Linked DNA regions of Homo sapiens. The protein of the gene in region 2 interacts with the protein of the main gene of each other region in a pairwise test. Each region holds a gene or a part of one and is shown on either strand. Other genes may lie near its edges.

Evidence for each region. The genes of interacting proteins can lie anywhere in the genome.
Region 1: the proteins of GSG1 (region 2) and SYT16 interact in binary tests that used the Homo sapiens proteins (3 or more experiments, as listed by UniProt).
Region 3: the proteins of GSG1 (region 2) and FTHL17 interact in binary tests that used the Homo sapiens proteins (3 or more experiments, as listed by UniProt).

The regions. Positions count from the first base shown.
Region 1 is NC_000014.9:62,109,681-62,113,114, reverse strand, and holds the end of SYT16 (synaptotagmin-16), read right to left. Parts: 3' UTR 565-3,434; downstream 1-564. UniProt on the Homo sapiens protein: May be involved in the trafficking and exocytosis of secretory vesicles in non-neuronal tissues. Is Ca(2+)-independent.
Region 2 is NC_000012.12:13,100,611-13,108,423, forward strand, and holds the start of GSG1 (germ cell-specific gene 1 protein), read right to left. Parts: upstream 3,058-7,813; 5' UTR 2,903-3,057; coding exon 2,855-2,902; intron 2,741-2,854; exon of another isoform or gene 2,658-2,740; intron 2,556-2,657; coding exon of another isoform or gene 2,475-2,555; exon of another isoform or gene 1,377-2,474; intron 1,131-1,376; exon of another isoform or gene 820-1,130; intron 1-819. UniProt on the Homo sapiens protein: May cause the redistribution of PAPOLB from the cytosol to the endoplasmic reticulum.
Region 3 is NC_000023.11:31,070,669-31,076,288, forward strand, and holds FTHL17 (ferritin heavy polypeptide-like 17), read right to left. Parts: upstream 1,374-5,620; 5' UTR 1,286-1,373; coding exon 734-1,285; 3' UTR 565-733; downstream 1-564.

The DNA.
Region 1 (3,434 bases), on a different chromosome or scaffold from region 2:
CTATGCTTTTCTGTTTGGGGGAAGTCAGCCATGTTTTGAGTGCTATGTAGGTGTCCGAATATAATAACTCAGCTCCCTCTACTTCTAGCTTGTTGCATCTGAGCCTTGTTAACTTTTGAGAACTGGGTATTCATAGAGGGGAAAGTGTTCTGGACAAGAGCTTCTCTAATGAGGAATTACATACACTTTTGTACATGAACACCTACACTTTGCAGTTTGCCTTCTCAGAATCCCCTTTAGATGCAATTTAATTAATTCAGGTGATCCTTACATTTATATAGCTCCTTACCTGATGTTCTTCAAGTCAGCATTTGAACTGGTATATGTTGATTTGTATATGTGTTCACCATAAAAGCCTACAGCACCCTGAAACCAAATAAACTGTATGGATCATACATGTAATGCTTATAGTTCTAAAATATATGTCTGCAGTTGGTATGGTTTTGAAGTTAATGGTTTTTGTATATACTAAAATAAGCAGTATCATTCAGGCCCATAAAATTTGCATGTTGATGCTGCAAAACTGTATCTTTTTTTAACATAAAAAATTTTCACACATGTACATATAAGCCATCTGCTAAAACTTTATTGATAAAACCAGTAGCAGCAGTTTTACAAAATTGGAATGATTTTCAGTTTTCATGAACTATCATGAATTCAGTTGCAGCAGACATTTTATACAAACTGGGGCTAATGCTTCTTCTATGTTTCTGTTTTAAACAAAAAGCAATTAGAATTTATCCTCATGCATTTAAATATCTAATACAGAAATAGTGTTTAGACTGCATAAAATATGCTTTCCAACATCACTGTGAGACTGAACATCTGCCTTAAGTATTATTTGCACAAGAAAAACAGTATAATTCTTCTAATCATGAATTTATTCCTTGTCACAGGTAAAGTTTTACATTTTCTAACATTTTCAGAGGGCATTTCTAACAAAAAGTATTGACATTCAATATTTCACTGATTGGTCTTGTTTAAACACAATACATAATAGTAAGATAGTAATACATTAAAACCATCATTATGAAATCTTAAAGACTACAAAAGGTAGAAAGGTATTCCAGTTTTTAACAATTAAAAAATTTCCACACCTTTTCCTATACACAAATTATCCACTGATAGAAGTAAATTTAGAAATAGGATGGGTCATTACATTCTACAGCTGTTTGTTCTGGTAACAGCTAGTGATACATTCATGCTTCTTTAATAAGAGACACCATGAATCAATAAGTCATACTATGAGAAACACAAGGACACCCACATGGAATGTTCTGAAGATTGTCAGAAGTTTCTAAAGTAAGGGTTCAATTCTTTTGAGGAGAAATTTTTTCTCTCTCTCTCTTGAACCTCTGGACCACATACGAATTCTCTACTGGAAAACTAGAGGAGGAACTATAATAGCATCCAGGTCTGAAAATGCCTATGAAACACTGGGAGAGGATTGGGGTGGCTTCCACCTTACAACTAACAAAACTGGCCTTGAACAATCAATTTGCCAAGAAATTCTTCTAGTGACTTAGAAATCTAGAGGAAGACCAGATTTTATACTAAACCATGTTATACTTAACTATCCACAAAAGTGAAATTTATAAAATTACTGACTGCCTTTGACAACCACCAAAACTCAGCACAGTCTAGCACATATAAATAATGTATTAAAGTAAGCATAGAATAGAAAAAGTACATGTTTACAATGTTAATACATCTGCAGCATCCAGCTGTGAGTAGAATAGTAATATAAAGCACATTCCCTGCTAAGAACAGTGTACTCCATGTAGGGTAAAATCTCCTGAAAATCTCCTAAAATAGTTACATATGTTCAAAATGAATGAATCATTCACATTTACATTTTTTTCATGAAAGTTCTTCAAGGACACCCATCAAAAGTTGAGATATAAAGGAAAACCAATAAAATATTTTAGAACAACAGAGCTGTACACAGTATGCATATGGTGAAACATAAATGTGTGAATGTGAACAACTGTTTCAGATGCCATATGAAGACCAAAAATATTGAGAAAGTCAGATTTATCTTGCACTGTGAACACAAATAAAATATTGCTATGAAATCTTGGATGTACCTTAAAAATGATTTTTTAAATCTTTACTTTTTCTGTGGGATAGTAAAAGGGCATTTATGAAGAAAATGATTACATGAGTGAGGAAAGTCACTTGGGAGGGGAGAGATGGACAAGTTTGATTCTTCAAAAGAAAAATAATAAAGGAGATTGAAGGACCTTTTTTGGCAGGGGAAGAATTTTTCTAAGGACTGTATTCAAATCCACTTTGTAGGGGAGGAAAAGCTATTCCATTTAATACTTTGCCTGTACTCAAAGTTAGGTTGTTCTAAAGAAAGGTCTGCATTCAACTCAAAGGTTGGCGAACCTGCTGAAAACATGGATTTGCAGTTTGTTACATGATCAGTGTTTGAACAAAAAAAAATTAGAACCTAATATTTTATTTCTAGCTCCTCAGAGACAGAACAGCTAAAGACCAACTATAACTTGTATTCAGACAGATTACTGACATTCTATGAATATGGCCCACTGATTGGCAGAGCTCTAAAAGTGTCAATTACTTTGATATATTGACATAAAGAGTTGATACGACCTTAATATAAAAATCACAAACTATCCTGTAGTCTTCAAAAACATTGCAAGTCTTCAAAAATTCTGCAAAACGTCTTTCCATCTATCACCTTGTCATATGTATGGCCCTGTTATATAGTGGGGTCTCAAAGTGTTCATTATATTAATGAAGGAATGAATGAATCCTGTTCCTACAACCACCTGGTAAAAATAGGTAAAATGAGTATTACTATTCCCATCTGATAGATGCAACAATGAAGGCTTGAAAAAATTGTGACTTGATATTCATTTTAGAGCTCATTAGTGGAAGATTTGATATCAGAACACAGGCCTCATCAACTTTAATCCAATATTCTTTATACAACTATACCTTCATCTCTGCAATAATGCCAGGTTCTGCAAGTTGCTGTAGCTACAAAGCAAAGGGCAGTCAGAAGACATATAAATAATCTCAAAATGTTTCTCAGATACAAATCATTGGCCAGGCCTCCCCCTTCACCCAGAGTGACTATCAGTGTTTTCTTTCCAACACCCATCTACTTGTTCATGCAACATATACATTAGCATGGGTTATCTTTTCATTCAGAATTCAGAGCTGCTGTGTGAGCCAGATGCTTACATACCATTTTTAATTGATTTGTACAATTAACTATGACGGGGCACAATCACAAAGCTTCCTTTCTCTTGGCAGGAGTGGTAAATGTAAAGTCATATAAACTAGCGACAGAAGGTGATTTTCTATCATGAATCAGTAATAACATAATTAACACTTTTTATCGACAGGTATTTAACTCATTGCTCAACAAAAGACACTACAGAGTCACTAAATTTGGGATCACG
Region 2 (7,813 bases):
CTTCTGAGCTTTTGCTGCTCTAACTGCAATGTTTACATCAGTGCCTGACCTTATACTCTTTCACTGATGAGGACAAAGATGGTCTTCACACGGGACATTTTCACATTTGTTTCCCAGCCCGGAAGGGAAGAGTAATGCCACCAAAATGCCCGTGCTTAGTGTTCAAAATGACTACATCACTGTAGGGCACTTAGCTCCGGGATTTATTCTCAGCTGTAACCACGTTTAAGGGGCCACATCACCTCAAATGGTCGCACAATCAAATGACTCTAGTCTTCCTAACGTAGGTCCCGAGTTTTGGGAACACTTCAATTCAGTGGGAAGGACCCTGGAAAAGCGTATCGGGGCCTCGTTCTCGTCTTTCCCTTTCCGCCTTTTAATGGAATTGTTTGAGGACTTTTGCTAATGCAGTCATTTCCAGGAGAGGAAGCCGCCTTTCTTCCAGGCCCCAAGCAGCTGGAGTGAATCAGAGGGGCAGCCACATCTGCACATCCTGTGGGGCAATCGCTCACGCGCGGGTGACGGCGCCAGCAGGCCGGCTGGGGCCGGGGGCGCTTGGGGACCGCGGGGCGGGGCGGGGGCGTAACGGGTGGGGCCTCTCGGGGGTGCCTGGGCCGCGCCATCTCCACTTCCGAGCGCGCCCTCCCACCCTGATGAGTAACGCGCCGTCTCTCCCGTTTACTACGGCGCCCGGTCGCCTAGCAGCGGGGCGCGTTGCCGCGGCGACAGGCCGGCCGTGTTTGGCATTGTTTGCGAGGCCCCGCCCCGCGGCCGCCAACCACCCATGGCTTCCTGACCGGGTCGGGCGGGGGTACCCGGGCTGTTTCTTCCTCTGGGTCTTCCTCCGTCGGTTGAGAACGGTGTCCCGGGGGCCCTCCCAGAGAGCAGGGACTGCCAGGGCAGGCCAGGGACCCGGCGAGCCGCGGAGGGCGGGGCCACATGTGTCCCGGAGCTGGGCCGGGGCGCTAGGCCACCTGAGGCGCGTCCCCTCTGCCGCCTGGCGAGGCTGCGCGGGAGGGCGGAGAGACTGGGTAGTCGGAGGGATTCCTTACACCCAGGCCGGTGGGCCAGGGCTCGGGATGTGTCGAGCTGCTGGAGTCCAAAGTCAGGCATTTCCCTGCCTCTGCCCGGTAAAGCTATGGGTCCCAGGCTCCCGTTCTAAGGGAAGGGGATGTCTGCGTCTCATTGGGAAGACCCCAGGGCGGGACTTCACCACCCAGACCCCTCAGCAGATCCGAGTTCTATTTACGACCCAATGCACGACTGCACTGAGGATTTTGGCCAAGTTACTTAACCTCCCAGAGGGTTAAATTTACCCTCAGGGGTAAATGAGGGCAAAGAGTTGTCCTTCTTAGTTCTGTGAAAATCGAAAACAGGTAGAAGAAGAGTGCCTCTAAGCAGAAACGAAGGGGAAGTGCACCTGTGCTACCAGCAGACACCTTGCTAGACCCTTCAGACATCTTCCTTAATCCTCACAACCAGCCTGAAAGGGACGTGGCATCCCCATTCTACAAGTGAGGGTTCCGATTCGGAGGGTTTGACTTGCTCAAGGCCACAAAGCTAGTAAATGGTAAAGTCAACACTGGCAATCTTTGAGGACTGTTCGCCTGACTCATCACCAGGCTGCCACTCAGTAAAAGCCAAGGCACAGTCACCTTTAACAAAATGTACAGATTGCAGGCCAGATTTATGGGACCTCCTGCAGATTGAGGCAATGGATTAAGTGTACTTTATACTTCTCAGGTACATATTAGCAACCAGACGCTCCCATATTCCCTCTGTGTCTCTCCTGGAAAACCACTGATAAAGAACAATAATAAAATTTATTCTAAGCCATGACTGGCTTTTTCTGTCATGTTCACATCCACTTCTTTGTCATCTATTCACTTGGGGCTGCTTCTGAATTAGGGAAGCTGCCTGAACCCACACTCCGATGGCTCTTCAGAACCACCAGCTCAGCTCTGCAGTCCCAGAAGTGCCTCTTAAGTTATCCTGTTCTTTCCTTTGAGATCCTAACTTCCAGCTGGTCAACAACATACCACATTGCTCCCTGTGTTGGAGTGTATGTACGTGTGTGTGTGTTTGTGTATGTGCTAGTTTGCTGGCTAATTGCAAGCTTCATTTTTCTCTCCTGAGAAAGGCAAGATATCTGAGAATGAACACCATTTGTTTTTTTAAGTAATCCTTAGAGCTGAAAGTTGGGAGGCTGGTCGTTTCTGAATGTAGGTCAAATGCTAAACAAGCCGCAACTTCTCTGCAGAGTGTGAGAGTCTTCCTGGTCTGGAAGGATCCCTGAAGATTCTGCTGGATTCTCTGAGACGAGAAAGAGCTTGACTGTGTGTTGTCCTTCCCAGTTCCAGATCAGAGCTGCCTTCCAGCAGGACCTTGGGGATGCCCCACTGTTCTCTGGCATAGAGCTTGATGTCTGCTCTTTCAGCTCACTGGGGTGACACACAGCTCTATTGTTGCCACCGCTACTGGGCCTTTACCAGGCTCCAGATTTTGGCAACGGGAATAATGCAGATGAAAGGAAAAAAGGAGAGGCATAGGGAGCCCTGGGAACAGAAAGGAGAAGGAAGATGATGAGACAAGGGAAGAAGAAATGGAAGTTTTAATGAAGGAAGATGAAAAGGTAATAGGCCAAGGTATGGACATACCAGTTTTATCTATGAAAACTGGGCTGAGTGACACATTTTCATTCCATTTTGTAGAACCCTATAGTGCATTTCCAAGCTCTTTACTGTGACCATGTGAAATACATGAAATTGATGAGTTAGTGTAACCTGTGTTACAAATCCAGCAGTAAAGATATGTGTATGAGATGTTCATGAGATTTCAAAATCACTGTACCTACCTCCTGGGTGAGGCAAACATTTTGAGTCAGTTGAGAGGGATCGCTCATTCACTCTTGCAGCGGGAAGGCAGAGAAGTTTCAGTTTATCTTCTGTTCTGTCTCAATCAGTTGGGTAGAATGAGTGTTTAGCGTGAGGATGAATCAGGTCCCCTCTTGCCAGCAGAGGGGTAAGGTGGTGTGTGGTGGATTGGAGAGGATGTCCTGAGGGCCAGACACCAGCCAGGGCGGGGTTGGGTGACCCGTGGGGTTTATTCTGTGATGTCACAACGGCAGTCAGGGGTCTCCCTGTTGCTCCCTCAGCCTCCTCCCATAAGGATTGGGGGGGGTCATGCTGGGTACCTACCAGTGGCTGGATGTCTTCTGAGGTCGTCCAGATCAGTGCTTATCTTATTGTGCATAAGATTCACCTGGGGAACTTAGTCAAGTGCAGATCCTGACTTAGTCAAGTGCAGAGTCTGGGATGGCTCTCACGTGAGTCCAGCCAGACCACACTGAGTTGTGAGACTCTAGACCAGTGCTGTCAAAGCAAAATGCAATGTGGGCAGCATATGTCATTTAAAATTTTCTGGTAGCCACATTAAAAAAAGTAAATTGGACACACATACTGTGATACAGCAATCATATGTTATACAATACTATGTTTAAAATGTAGCCCTCCCCACACAATAAAGTTGGGTTTAATGAAAAATATTTTATACTACTTTCATTTTAAAATTAAAATTTAGTGAATTCAAATTACATAAAATTAGAAATTCAGTTGCTCAGTTGCACTATCCATATCATAAGGGCTCCACAGCCACACATGGCAAGTAGCTACTGTATTGGATGGCACAACTCAAGGCCATTCCCTGAAAAGGTAACAATGTACAGAAATTACCATTCTAAAGGGCTAGTATCTGGAAACCCAGCAAACATTCACTAACATCATTTTAATGAATACATAATTAGTGTTTGGGGACTGTTAATATGGAGGCATAACTCTCGGAGACTGGAAGAGGGCCTCATCCAGGATTCCAGCTAACAGTCTGGATGGGGCCCTCTGCCCTGTGAAACCTGTCACACTCAGTCCTCCTCTGAGCTTTTGCCAGGGTTCCCCTCACTGGGATCCCTTCCTTCTCCTTGCTGCCCTGCCTAAATCTTACACAACCTCAGGGCACATGATTCCAGTCTCACTACCTTGTGGCTCTAGCCCTCCTTACTCCCCATTTCCTCTTTGCTCATACAGCATGCCTGCTTTGCTTTTGGTGTGTTAGTCTGTTTCTCTCGTGAAATTCTAAGCTGCTTGAGGACAGAATCTGGTTTTTTACTTCTATCGTGCTTAATATAGTGCCAAGGGCATAGTAGCTGCTCAAGAAATATTTATTATTTTATTTAATGACCTAAACTACCTAAGGAAGTATCTAAGAGAGAACATCGGATCTCGAAGTGCCAATAACTTCCCCAATGGAACAACATGCCTTATTTTTGGCACATCTTAAATTGATCAAGATGTCCGTTATAAGTTAATTTATAAATTTAATACAAATAACCATGAGTATTTTAAAAGACCAACACAAGTTGATATTAAAGTTTATATGGGAAAAAAATACACAAGACTAGCTAGGAAAACCCTGAAAAGGAAGAGCTCTGAGGTGGTGCTAGCCCTAATTGATATAAAGCATACTACAAAGCCTCTATGATTAAAACAACATGGCACATGTATACATATGTAACAAACCCGCACGTTGTGCACATGTACGCTAGAACTTAAAGTATATTAAAAAAAACAAAAAAACCAAAAAAAAACAATGTGGTACTGGTGCATGACTAGACAAACAGGCCAATGGAAGAGAACAGAAAGTCTAGAGATAAACACAGCTATGTATAGACTTCCAGTATAGGACAAAGGTGATATCTGTAATCACTGGGGCACAGATGATTTTTTTAAGAAATGTTGTTGGGATAAACTAGATAGCCATTTAGAAAAATATAAATTATATTTATTTAAAAATCATATACAAGAATAAACTCTAGATGGACTAGAGATCTGAATTTTAAAAATGAGATTATGGCCGGATGCTTAATCCCAGCACGTCAGGAGGCCGAGGCAGGAGGATAACTTGAGCCCAGGAGTTCAAGACCAGCCTGGGCAACACAGTGAAACCTTATTGCTACGAAAAGTACAAAAATTAGCTGGGCGAGGTTGTGAGCGCTTGTAGTCCCAGCTACTTGGGAGACCGAGGTGGGAGGATTGCTTGAGCCCGGGAAGTTGAGGCTGCAGTGAGCCATGATCCTGCCACTGAACTCCAGCCTGGGCGATGCTGGGTGACAGCGCAAGACTGCCTCAAAAAAAGAAAAAAAAAAAAAAAAGAGAGAGAGAGAGAGAGAGACATATGAATGACCCTAAATATATGAAAAAATGTTCAACTTCACATATAGTAAACATAATGCAATTTAAAACTAGAATGAAATATCACTTCTCATCCACCAGACTGACAAAATTATAAAGTTTGACAGTGCAATCTGTTGATGATGCTGTGGGGAACAGACGCTCTCACTCATTGCTAGTGGGAATCCCAAATGGTGTACCCCTTTGGTGAATTTGGCAATATCTAACACAACTGCATGTGCATCCCATCACCCAGAAATCCTACTTCTAGAAATTTACCCTGAAGATACACCTCCAACAATAGGCATGAAGCTATTCATTACAACATATTTGTAATTGTAAAATATGGAAACTACCTAAATAAGAATTGGTGGAATTAATTATGGTTCATACACACAATGAGGTACTATGCAGCTATAAAAAACAAAGCAAACAAGGGAGATTTCTATGAACTGATATGGAATGCTAAGTACATAAGAGGATATATAGTATACTATCTTTTGTGTAAAAAAGAAAAGAGGGGAAACAAAATGTACATCTATCTGCTTATTGTTACCAAACGAAGTTCAGGAAGGATAAACCAGAAAACAATAAAGTTGGTTGTTTACTGGGGGTGGGGAATGGAAATGATTCTGGAAGGAGTGACACTTCTCTGAGAAGTTTTTATGATATAGTTTTGACTTTTGGGAGCATGCTAATGTTCCACATGTTTGAAAATAAAATTATAACAAGTTGAGAAGGAAAAGAAAAGCCTGAAACCAAAAGCAAATGGAAACAAGTGACCTCAGTGGTATTTCAGATAAATACTATAACCACGCAGAAAGGGAAAAAACAAAAGAAAGAACAAATCCAAGGAACTCTTGAATACAGTGCTTGACTATCTACTGGTCAGTCTTGGGTAAAGTTGAGTGGGGGAGAATTGCAAACAACTCCTGAACTCTTTTTATTTATTTATAACTGTAAAAAATTTATTTTATTTTAGATTCAGTGGGTACATGTGCAGGCTTGTTACATGAGTATACTGTGTGATGCTGAGGTTTGGGCTGCTAATGATTTCATCACTCAAGTAGTGAACATAAGTGAACATGGCATCCGATAGATAGTTTTTCAATACCTGCTGCCCTCTCTCCCTAACCCCCTTTAGAATTCCCAGTGTTTATTGTTCCCATTTTTGTGTCCATGTGTACCCAATGTTTAGCTCCCACTTATAAATATGCTGTATTTGGTTTTCTGTTTCTGCATTAACTTGCTTAGAATAATGGCCTCCACCTGCATCCATGTTGCTGCAAAGGACATGATTTCCTTCTTGTTTATGGCTGTGTATTAATAGTATTCCAGGGTGTATATGTACCACATTTTAGGAATCTAACCCACCATTGATGGGCAGCTGGGTTGATTCTGTATGTTTGCTATTGTGAATAGTGCTGTGATAAACACACAAGTACAGGCTGAGTGAGATGGCTCACACCTGTAATCCTAGCACTTTGGGAGGCTGAGGCAGGAGGATTGCTTGAAGCCAAGAGTTCAAAACCAGCCTGGGCAGAAAAGTGAGACCCTCTCTCTGAAAAAAATAAACAAACCCCTCAAGTCAGCTGGGCGTGGTGGCCCGTGCCTGTAATCCCAGCTATATGAGAAGCTGAGGGAGGATGGCTTGAGCCCAAGAGTTTGAGGCTGCAGTGAGCTATGATCATGCCACTACATTCCAGCCTGTGTATCAGAGCAAGACTCTCTTAAAAAAAACAAAATAATACAAAACCCCAAAAAACATACAAGTGCAGGTGTCTTTTTGATAGAATGATTTATTTTCCTTTGAGTGTGTACCCAGTAATGAGATTGCTGGGTTGAATAGTATTTCTAATTTTAGTTCTTTGAGAAATTTCCAAACTGCCTTCCACAGGGGCTGAACTAATTTGCATTCCCAGCAACAGTGTATAGGCGTTCTCTTTTCTCTACAACCTTGCTAACATCTGTTATTGTTTGATTTTTTGGTAATAGCCATTCTGATTGGTGTGAGATGGTATCTCATTGTGATTTTGATTTGCATCTCTCTGATAATTAGTGATTTTGATAATTTTTTCATATGTTGGTTGGTGGCTTGTATGTTTTCTTTTAGAAGTGTCTGTTCATGCTTTTGCCCACTTTTTAATGGAATTATTTGTTTTTTTTTCTTGTTGATTTGTTTCAGTTCCTTATAGATTCTGGATATTAGGTGTTTGTCAGATGCATAGTTTGCAAATATTTTCTCCCCTTAAGTAGGTTGTCTGTTTACTCTGTTGATAGTTGCTTTTGCTGTGCAGAAGCTTTTTAGTTTAGTTAGGTCCCAACTGTCAATTTTTGTTTCTGTGGCGTTTGATTTTGAGGACTTAGCCATGAATTCTTTGCCTAGACCAATGTCTAGAAGAGTACTTCCTAGGTTTTCTAGGATTTTTATAGCTCGAGGTCTTACATTTAAGTCTTTAATCCATCTTGAGTTAATTTTTGTATATGGTGAGAAATAGGGTCTGGTTTCGTTCTTCCGCATATGGCTAGCCAGTTTCCCAGCACCACTTACTGAATAGGTTATTCTTTCCCCATTGTTTAATTTTGTTGAC
Region 3 (5,620 bases), on a different chromosome or scaffold from region 2:
GGACTTGGACTTGCAAAGTGCCATTTTAGTTTGTCAGCCCCTTGGCTATGGGGAAGCCAGCTTAAGGCTCCCACTACAACTGTCACCCAAAGTGAGCTTGCCAAAGAAGTACCCTGCTGTGCTGTCACCCAGAGCCCCCACTTGCTACTCAGAATCCACAAACATTAACATTGGCATATTTTAATAAACTACAAGTTTTCATGTAAAGTTGAAGACCCTTTGTTTATTTTAATCCTTGCCCAATCCCATTTCCTTCACTTCTTCCCCAGAGGCAACCACTATGATGAATTCCAGACCACGTTTTACACTTTACCGTGCCCATGCACCCACAGCCACCAGGGCCCAAGAGTGACCACCCCACCCCATCCCACCCCACATACCCTGGTAGTTTACAAAGGGAAGACTAATGTGTTTTCCAGGGGCCCATAAAATACCATTCCACTCCACCCCTGCAAATCCTGAGCTGCATGCAGATGGGGCAGGGGTGGGTGGAGAGACTGCTGGATACCTACTTTAAACCTGCATGGGGATTTGCCCTGATTCCTAAAAGGTGAGAGTTGCAGGTGTATCAAATGGACACCTTTATTGCTTTGAGAACCAGATAACTTTTTTGCTAACAATGGTAAAACTGAAAGATAAAACTGAAGAGAACGTTCTGAAAGGGCAACATGCACGCCCCGCCTAGTGGCCTGACCCAGGGAAGGGACCCCGTGGCTGTGGGGCCCATCTGGGCTCAAGTCTCTTTGACGCGGCCGCCCAGGGTGAGCTTGTCGAACAGGTACTCAGCCAGGCCGGCTTCCGGGGAACAAATCTTGCGCAGGTTGCTCACGTAGCCACCCAGCTCTTTGATGGTCTTGACTTGCTCGTGCAGGTAGTGGCTCTCCAGGAAGTGGCACAGCTGGGGGTCGCCCTTCTCCACGGCCAGCTGGTACAGATCCAGCAGGCTCTGGTTGACGTTCTTCTCCAGGTGGAAGGCGGACTCCATGGCCACGAGCCCGCTCTCCCAGCCTTGGCACTCTGGCTTCCTGATATCGTGAAGGCAGATGTGGCCACCGCGCAGGTTCTGCAGCCTCATCAGCTTCTGGGCATGCTCCATTTTGTCGTCCGACAGGCGCAGGAAGTAGCGGAAGAAGTTCTCCAGGGCCACGTCGTCCCGGTTGAAGTAGAAGGCCATAGACAGGTACAGGTAGGAGGTGTAGAGCTCCAGCGTGATGTGGCTGTTGATGGCGGCGTCGCAGTTGGTGTCGTACTTCTGGCGCACCTGCGACGGCTGGGCGGTGGCCATGGCGGGCAGCGCAAGTGCAGGCGAGCACACGGGCGAAGTCGGTGCGGTAGCGAGGGCAGCAGCTGAGGTGACAAGAATGGCGGATAGTGAAAGGCGGGTGTGCGATGAAACCGGAAGTGGGCAGTGGAAGTGGGCAGTGGCGACCGTTAGGGAGGAGCGCGCTCTGTCGGTGGGGGGAGGGGCGGCGGGGGACAGAGTTGCGGGGCAAGGGGGTGGGGGCACAAGCGCTGACTTCCGTCGGAAATCCCGGCCACTTGGCGCTGAATGTTTCAAGACCATCTTTTAAAAATAACTGCTCTAGGCCGGGCACGGTAGCTCACGCGTGTAATCCCAGCACTTTGGGAGGCCGGGGCGGGCGGATCACGAGGTCAGGACATGGAGACCAACCTGACCAACATGGTGAAACCCCGTCTCTACTAAAAATACAAAAAAAATTAGCCAGGCATGCTGGCGCGCGCACCTGTAGTCCCAGCTACTCGGGAGGCTGAGGCAGGAGAATTGCTTGAACCCAAGAGGCGGAGGTTGCAGTGAGCTGGGATTGTGCCGTTACACGCCAGCCTGGGCAACAGAGCAAGACTTGTGTCAAACAACAACAACAAACTGCACTATTGAGATACAATTCCTCTGCCATAAAATTCACCCTCTGAAACATTTCCATGGTTTTTAGTATATTCATGAAGTTGTGTAACTATCACCCCATCACCAAAAATCTAATTTCAGAACGTTTTCCTTATTCCAAAATGAAATCCCCTACCCATGAGTAGTTACTGCCCATCTCGCCTTCCTCACTGGCCCGACAACCACAAATGAAATCTCTGTTTCTAGAGATTTGCTTACTCTGGACATTTCAAATAAATCATACTATATGCGGCCTTTATATGGCCTCTTTCATTTAGCATAATGTCTTTAACTTTTGTCTTTTTTATGGCTGAATTATATTTCATTGTATGGATATACCACATTTTATTTACTCATTCATCAGTCGATGGGCATTTGAGTTGTTTCCATTTTGTGACTATTATGACTAATGCAGCTATGAGGATTTTTATAATAGACATATGTTTTCAACTCCCTTGGGTATATACCTGGGACTAGAATTGCTGGGTCATATGTTAAGACTCTGTTTAACATTTTGAGGAACTGCTAGACTGTTTTCCAAAGTCCCCTCATCATTTTACATGCCCACTAACAATGTATGAAGGTTCCAACACTGTCATTGTCTTTGTTGTTTTTCTAGTGGATGTAAAGTGGTATCTCACTGTGGTTTTGATTTGCATTTCCATAATGGCTATTGATGTTGAGCATCTTTTCATAGTCATTTGTATCTTCTTTGGAGAAAACTCTATTCAAGTCTTTTGTCCATTTTAAAATTGGGTTATTTGTACTTTTATTGCTGAGTTTTAAGAGTTCTATATATATTATGTGTGCCAGTCCTTTTTCAGATATATGATTTGCAAATATTTTCTCTCATTCTGTTTTTTTTTTCACTTTCTTAATGGTGTCCTTTGAAGCACAAAGTTCTTAATTATGTTCAATTTTTCTGTTTTTCTCTTGTCACTTGTGCTTTTAGTGTCCTATCTAAGAAACCATTGCCTAATTCAAGGTCATAAACATTTATGTCCAGGTTTTCTTTGAATAATTTTACAGTTTTAGCTTTTACATTTAAGTTTCTAACTCATTTTGAGTTAATTTTTGTATATGATATGAGGTCATTGTCCAATTTCATTCCTTTGTGTGTGGATATCCAGTTGTCCTAGCACCATTTGTTGAGAAGACCATTCTTTCTCCACTAGATGGTCTTGGCACACTTGTCAAAAATCAATTGACCATAGATGTATGGGTTTATTTCGGGACTCCCAATTCTGTTCTGTCAATCTATGTGTCTAAACTGATGCTGGCACAACACTGGCTTGATTACTATAGCTTTGTAGTAAGTTTTGAAATTGGGAAGTATAGTCATCCAACTCTGCTCTTCTGCAGAGATTGCTTTGGCTATTCTGGGTCCCTTGAATTTCCTATGAATTTTAGGATATGCTTGTCAATTTCGTTTTTTTTTTTTTTTTTTTTTTTAAAAACCAGCCTACTGGGATTTTGTTAGGGATTGCATTAAACCTGTAAGTCATTTGTGGGAATATTGGTATCTTAATATTAACTCTTCTAGTCCATAAACATGGGATGTCTTTTAATTTATTTGGGTCCAGGACGTTTAAAAATAAAGATTTTGATTTAGGCTGGGGCTCCAAATCAGAATTTCTAAGCATCTCAGGTGATGCCAGACCACATTCTGAGTAGCAATGCTCTAAGAGGGAGGAGGCCTCTATCCCTTATCAAGGTTTAGAGATAAAGAGGACACATATATTGGACTCCACAAGCAAAAATTCCTGTTCTCACATCACAGACAATGCTTGTGCTATTTATTATACTAGATGTAGTTTTTTGTGGGAAAGGGAAGAGACCTTTCTCCTATCACAAAAAATTGTGAAAGACTTTAAAATCAGCAAAAACAATTTCCTGGATGTGGTTTTTAGAGTACCTTTCTGGGTTATCTCCATCTTTCATTGACTTAGAGTTATTTTCTAACTCTTCAGATTGTAGAAAACTAATAATAATGCAAACAATTCTTGTCCACAGAAATGCAAATAAATGTCTGGTGAAATGCAATTGATTTTTGACTTATTTTGCATCTATTTGTACATTCCTTATTTCAATATTCCTTATTCCTACATATGTATGGCTCTTTGAATTCTCCTTTGAGCCATTTGTAACATCTTACTAGTTTCCTCATTAATTAATAAGTTAAATAAAATGTTTCATGCACATATTTTATATTTATATGAGAGTCATGATTTTACTTTTTTCCTCGTAATTATTCTTTAGCACTCCCCAGGTCCACCCCCACCCGACCAGGAACACAACTGAAGCCCAGGGAAGTTGACTTGGTAAAGTGAGCACTTTTATGGGTTGCTCACCTGAGATATGATTCCAGAAAATTACTTAGGACCTAAAGGCATAGAATTCCTGACTGTGGAATTCTATATGGACTATGGAAAGATAGCCTCTCTGAGGAGAAGGAGGCAGGGAGTAGTCCAGGGCTGTAGGAGACCAACGAAAACTAGCAGAGGAAGTGGATATCCAGGGAGCAGGCCACAGAGGTACCTCACCAGCAGAACACTGTAGCCACAGTGGGGCTGAGGCTGGCCTGATGCAAACTGGGGAGGATAGAGAAGTAGGGGTGACCAGTAAAGGTCTGTAGAAAACTGGAACCAGCTGAGAACCAGGGAAGTGATGAGAGTTTCCAGGCAGAGAATGTAGTTAACAGAGATTTGAGGGGTGGAAGGTTGACTGACTCAGATGGGAGTTTGACAGGCTGAGGTTCATGGTCTGAGTAAAGTTAACCCTGGGAAAGAGGTAGGAACCTGAGCTTTTGGAGCCAGGATGAAGGATCCTCTCATCAGCACTTTTGTGCTCCCTGAATCATACCCCTGGAAGGGGTGTTCGGATCCACAGATACTAAGAGTGTGGAGTATCCAGGACTGGGCCATGGGCTTCATCTTCCAGAGAAGTTTCCTTCCAGCTGGTGATCAGATGTAGGGACGCTCTAATGCATTCTTCTTGGCCCTACTATGGGACAACTTTTTAGCACAAAGGCCGTAGGACAATGGTTGCTCCTATTTGGTTGGACACTACTGAGACGTCCAACACTCACACCCATACCATATTCTAAAGAAGAAAATGCTCTTTCCAGTCTCTAATTCCTTGCTGTTCTGATTTTGGGGGAAAAAAGAAGAATCACTGTCTTGAGGAGCAAAGGAAAACCCTCAGAACTTAGACATGCCCATTGTATGTAAGTTGATGGCTGATATTCGTCAGTTAAATAGGAATTGTTTCTAAGGTTATAACTTTTCATTTCTATTCAGTGTGCTGAATAATCTCCATCTACCTCTCTAAGACTACTCTCTGCTTTTCTCCATCTTACTTGGCACACTGGGAGGGGGAGGTTGACCTGTATGTACTGCACCCCTAGGTCCCTTGTGCTGTCTGGCTTCTAGTTGCATTCAGTCAACGGGAGGCACTGGCAGGATATGGGAGGGCAGGGGAGGAGTGAAGTTGAGGTATTTTTTCTCTTGGCTCCATCTCTTCAGGGCAGATAATTAAGAGGCGCCTTTATTTCCCTTTTATACATTTTGCTCCCTGGATGCAGTAGGACCATTCTCAGGATAGGCCTTCTGCAAACATTACTACAAAGAGCAGGTATTCTTTGGCTCAAGTTTAATGCACAGCCTAAGAAATTCATGGGGTCCCAGAAACCAGTGTGTAGCTGGACGTTCCGTCAGG